Regions from separate parts of the Homo sapiens genome. Here region 1 is linked to region 2. A link means that fine-mapping ties the variant in region 2 to the expression of a gene that starts in the linked region. Tissue or cell type: whole blood. Region 2 holds a variant in brackets; the other region holds the start of a gene. All regions are shown on one strand. Distances are from middle to middle. Region 1 holds the start of VGLL4 (vestigial like family member 4). Region 2 has its middle 61 kb from the start of VGLL4.

What was found.
Region 1: it holds the start of VGLL4, and the variant in region 2 is fine-mapped to the expression of VGLL4 in whole blood (INTERVAL, PIP above 0.99). The same link has a PIP of 0.9 or more in platelets.

Annotation. Positions count from the first base shown.
Region 1 is chr3:11,642,716-11,645,623 of GRCh38, forward strand. VGLL4 (vestigial like family member 4) reads right to left here and starts at 1,200. Exons shown (of 5, transcript NM_001128219.3): 1 at 722-1,200. The coding sequence starts at 803. RefSeq lists enhancers at 1-153, 1,344-1,423.
Region 2 is chr3:11,703,940-11,706,847 of GRCh38, forward strand. It overlaps a transcript of VGLL4 not described here. Among named protein-coding and RNA genes, the nearest start is that of VGLL4, 61 kb to the left of the region's middle. RefSeq lists a silencer at 1,256-1,550. The variant G/A (reference allele first, on the strand shown) is at 1,324.

The DNA of each region.
Region 1 (2,908 bases), 61 kb before region 2:
CCTCGCGGGCAGTAGGAGGTAATAAATAACAGTTCGGCGCGGCTCTCTCTTTTTCAGGGCAGGCTGGGGGTCGGGGTGTTGTGTAATCGCTCCCACAGGGAGCGGAGCGCGAGGAACACCCCCCAGTGTCAGCGCTCCCCGGGCTGCACAGGAAGCGCCAGCGAGACAAAGAGCCCGCCTGTGCTCGCTGACACGGTGCCCTTCCGGCCCCACGCGGGAGAGGGACATTCTCCGCTGTTTGGGACGCTCACTCGCGAGCACAAAAACTCGCTGTAACTTTGGCTCCCCCTCCGTGAGCTGCAGGGCGCCGTGGCCCACAGCAGGGTACAGTAGACGGTGCAATCCTTACCAGCCCCTCCCCCAAAGAGGCTCAACTTTTACCGGCGTCCTACAAGTCCTTCCCCTAAAGACAATATTAACGGAAATCAAAAATACATACATTTTAAAGAGTTAAAAATGTGAGGCGCGAGTACGTTGCAAGCAACGAGCAAACTTTGAAGGGTTTCTACTTCACTGCCTCCCCGTCCAGCCCCCTCCACCGCCCCCCGCAGCCTGAGATCCGAACACACTCGGTGCCGAACCGAACCTAAGAAACGCCGGCCTTTCAAGTGCCCTACACCCCGGAGGAGGACAGCGGGCGCTTAGAAGGCAGGCACCCAGCACACTGAGGAGGAGTGGCCGGGACGAGCAACGGGCAGTAATTCTACAACGGGACATCTACCTTCGTAGCACAGAATGCCGATATTGTTGTTCATCTTGTCCAAGTACTGATAGTTCAACAGGTCCATCTTCATAAATAGCATTTATTGGGCTAGCAAAGAAAACCAGCTCTTTGCTTTTGCCCCAAAAGAGTTAAGTTTCAAAAATCAATTGTTGCTGAGTAGCTCCTGGCTCTTCAACTTCACAAAGGCAGAGGCCCAGCCTCAGACTATCAAAACAAAGTATGCAAAAGTTAAAAAAAAAAAAATCAGGCACAAAAAAATCGAGCTCACACGAAACCCTTCAAGGGCTTACTGGTAGACGGTGTATGTACTGTATCCCCGATCGAGTATGAAAACAGCGTTTCAGAAGTCCTTACAAGTCCTTCCTGGAAATGGAAAAGAGTGAAAAAGAGAAACGCGCAGCCCGTTTCCTAGGACAAAGCGGCGCCGGCCCCTCTCACAGCCCGCTGCAAGCCGGCAGCGCTGACATGAGGGCTATGCTTGGCATGACTCCTATGCCGCCGCTTCCTCTTCCCGCAGGAGGCCGAGCATGCTCACTGCGCCGCGCTGCCGAGGCAGGGAGGGCTTCTGCACAGGATCAGCCTCTCAATGTAGCAAGTGTTGGAAAGAAAGAGAAAGGGGAGGGGGAGAGACTCTAGAGACGGGGCCTTGGCAGAGTGGCTCTTGACAGGAAGCAGCCAAGCCGCTGCAAAACCGTAGGAGGAAAAAAGAAAACCCAGGAAGTTTCTTTTTCAGGAGCTAAGTACAAAGTAAAAAATCCATCATGGAAGCAAACTCCCATGGAATGCAACTTTCGTGAAACTTCATGTTGGGGTTTCGGAAACCCAAAGTGCTAGTGATGCATAAGCCATATATATATATATAGTGTCTTTGTTTCTTTTAAAGATTGTTTTATAATATCCATTTACACTTTAACTGGATATTTAAATTTCTGATGTTAATGTTACATATAGCTTCTTCCATAATCCCCATAACAACTGAGATGGACAGGGCAAGGAGGGTATCACCCTTTCACAGCAGAGGAAACAGGTTCAGATGGATTAAATGACTGGCCCACAGCCCCCAAAATAGTTGACAGAACTACTTTTAAAGTGTTTTTTCCCACCTAATGTTATAATTTTATTTAAAAAAACGAGGGGGCCGGGTGTAGTGGCTCACACCTGTAATCCTAGTCGAAGCAGGCGGATCACTTGAGGTCAAGAGTTCAAGACCAGCCTGGCCAGCATGGTGAAACCCCATCTCTACTAAAAATACATAAATTAGCCTGGTGTGGTAGCGCACGCCTGTAGTCCCAGCTACTCAGGAGGCTGAGGTGGGAGAATTGCTTGAACCTGAGAGGAGGAGGATGCAGTGAGCCAAGATCGTGACACTGCACTCCAGCCTGGGCAACAGAGTGAGACTTTGTCTCAAAAAAAAAAAAAAAAAAGAAAAGAAAAAAAGGAGACAAGGAGAGGAGAAGAGATGGAAGAGTGTTTAAGCAAATAGGGCTATAATATCAAAAATTAAAAGTGTACTTGAAATTATAGAGGGAAAGGGTAAAATTATTTTCATTTGGCATGTATGTCACCCACCTGTGTGTAAGAAGCTAGTGGCATGCAGCTGTACTATTTGCTATTGGAAGAACTTGGGGCTTAAACTTTGATTACCCAGTGCCTAGCACAACCAAGTTCAGGTGCCCAAAAACTGTTTACTGAACGAGTGAACCACTGAATGTTCAGTTTTCAGCACATCAAGAACGTGTTAACAAAATAGAAAAAAAAAAAACAAAAACTAAACATTTGAATTACTATTCTAAAAATATATTTTTAATATTCCAAAATAATATTTGAATAAATAATTTGAAGGAGTTGTATGTTAAAAATCCAGCAATAGGCCAGGCGCGGTGGCTCACGCCTGTAATCCCAGCACTTTGGGAGGCCGAGGCGGGTGGATCATGAGGTCAGGAGATCGAGACCATCCTGGCTAACACGGTGAAACCCCGTCTCTACTAAAAATACAGAAAATTAGCCGGGCGCGGTGGCGGGCGCCTGTAGTCCCAGCTACTCGGGAGGCTGAGGCAGGAGAATGGCGTGAACCCGGGAAGCGGAGCTTGCAGTGAGCCAAGATTGCGCCACTGCAGTCTGCAGTCCGCAGTCCGGCCTGGGCGACAGAGCGAGACTCCGTCTCAAAAAAAAAAAAAAATCCAG
Region 2 (2,908 bases):
GGCCTCCAAAGAAACACTGATCCACGAGGCATGGTAGCTCACGCCTGTAATCCCAGCACTTTGGGAGGCCAAGGCGGGCAGATCACTTGAGGTCAGGAGTTCAAGACTAGCCTGGCGAACATGGTGAAACCCCATCTCTATTAAAATTACAAAAAATTAGGTCGGGCGTGGTGGCTCACGCCTGTAATCCCAGCACTTTGGGAGGCCGAGGCGGGCAGGTAACCTGAGGTCGGGAGTTTGAGACCAGCCTGAACAACATGGAGAAAACCCATCTCTACTACAAATACAAAAAAATTAGCCGGGTATGGTGGCCCATGCTTGTAATCCCAGCTACTCAAGAGGCTCAGGCAGGAAGATCGCTTGTACCCGGGAGGCAGAGGTTGCGGTGAGCCGAGATCGAGCCATTGCACTCCAGCCTGGGCAACAAAAGGGAAACTCCGTCTCAAAAAAAAAAAAAAAAAAAAAAGAAAAAAAGAAAAGAAAAGAAAGAAACATAGATCCCTGATCATGCAATATGACTTCATTCAGTAAACGTTAAATATCTACAAGGAGCTCCAGGCGGGAAAAATAAACAAAGCCCAGTAGCTGCCTTCGAGGAGCTTTCAATCTGCACGGGAGGCAGGCCACCGAGACATCTAGTTTAAGGCAGCATTCTTCCAAAGCATTCTGCACTGGGTGTTCATATTTTGTAAGAAAAAAACGTTTTTCTATGGTAAATAAGTTTGAGGAAGCCTGGAGTAAACCAAGCTAAGCAGCGTATTTTCCTCCCCGTGCCTTTAATCTCCCGTTGTGGGGACAGAAAGCCCTGTACACGCGAAACCTCGTAGACGTCATGAGCCATTTTCAACCCAAAACGCATCTCAGGGAACATCTGGGGAAAATACTGGGTTAGGGCAAAATGTGCAAAGCGTCAAAACAGTGCTAGAAACAAAGTCCTACAGAAATAACAGATGAATTCTGAAAGGCTTTGTGAAGAAAACAGAACTTGAGCGGAGGCTTTGAAGAACGAATATAAAAGTTCCTCCCCCAGAAGGGAAGAACAGAAGCAGAATCGGTTTAACAACACGCTGCCCAAATCGCCTACAAGAGTAAAATGGGGACAGAAAGTAAGCGACAAGGTTGGAAATTTAGATTGGGACCACATCGTGAAAGGACTGAGGGCTTCGATGGGACCGCGGCTTGACACGCATTAAGGAGCCACTGAAAACTCCATCTAAGCAGAAAAGCGGCTTAGTCATCCATGCGTTCTGGGCAAGTTATCCTGGCCGCACCACGTGGAACGGAGTAGATAGAGCTCGGGAAGCTGAGCGCAGGGCGGACAAC[G/A]GGAAGGCCAGAGCCGTGGGCAAGCACGCGGAGGGCAGCGAGGGGCACTGGCACCGGAGCCGCGGGGAGGCAGGAAAACGCAGAGGCGGAGCTCACTGAGCTTGGCAGGCAGAGAGAGGAGGGGAGGGCCACGGAAGACTAAGAGTGGCAGGGAGGCAACGACCTCCTAACACACGCACATGTCTTCTTTTTCAGAGAGGATGGGTAAAAGCAGCGGTCTAAGAGGGAAAACCTAACAGTGCTCACATTCCTGATCTTCTTTGTAAAAACAGAAAAGACCATCTCCTAAGAGGAAGGATTTGTGAACTTGTTCAACAATGGAGAAAACCAACAAGAACTTGGAACTGACTAACAGAAAAAAGTCTGCTGAACTCCCAAGAACTAGGTAATATTCTCTTCACCCAAGCCAGCTTCCTATTCAGGAAAGATCTGGGTTTAAAGTCTTGTGATTTGGTCGAGACCATCCTGGCTAACACAGTGAAACCCCGTCTCTACTAAAAACACAAAAAATTAGCCAGGCGCGGTGGCGGGCACCGTAGTCCCAGCTACTGGGGAGGCTGAGGCAGGAGAATGGCATGAACCCGCGAGGCGGAGCTTGCAGTGAGCTGAGATCGCGCCACTGCACTCCAGCCTGGGCGACAGAGCGAGACTCCGTCTCAAAAAAAAAAAAAAAAAGATCTTGTGATTTGGGGTAGTAACTGCTGATAAGCATCCTACTTTGCAATAATACAGCATTTAGACTCATAATTCTCTAAATTAATTTTACCCCATTAAGTTGAAGGACAATGCTTTCAAAATTCTAGACCTAAATAGATTAATACATACCTTAGGTTATATAAAGTATGCACAGAAACAAAATATCAAAGCATAAAAGTATCAAATGACATAAGGTAGACCCAGAATTCTAGCATAGCGGAATATTAGACATTTAAGTTTATACAGATGCTATGAAATCCTAAACCCCCAAGCAACTTACATTCAAAGTAGGTAGATAAGATAATGGGTATTAAAGGTTCATCCACAAGGCACCTGCCATCTGCTGCAACCTTATTAATGAAATCAACCAATGTTTATTACACAATTATTCTAAGCTCAGCAAAGTGCCCAGAAAAGGTTAAGGAGAAACAGAAGATAGATCTCTGCTTTCAAGGAGTCACGCTCTTGTTCGGAAACTAAATTTTATAAGATAGGATAATGACAGGCAAAATCAAAAAGAGGATAAACAAAGACTAAATATTATTTAAAACTAAAATGGGTACAGTGTCATAAAAGAGATCAATGTCAGCTAACGTGTTTGCCTTGTGCACATCTATTTTTTGTTTGGGGGTGGTTTGTGGATGCGTGTGTGTTTCAAAAAGCCACTTGGAAAATTTCCTTCCCCGGTTGCCCTGCCCCAGGCAGTCACTCTCCTCTCTGGCCTCCCTCACCTTCCTGGATCGCACTGTGTTTCTGTATACTTCCTAGGTGCAAGGACCCTGTCTTATCCCCAGTGCAGTCATCCTGAGTCAACAACAGTCTGAGAAAAGGCACAGGGGCAGGAATGAGCACCTGGGACAGGTGGCCAGACCTGACTAGCTAGAACTGA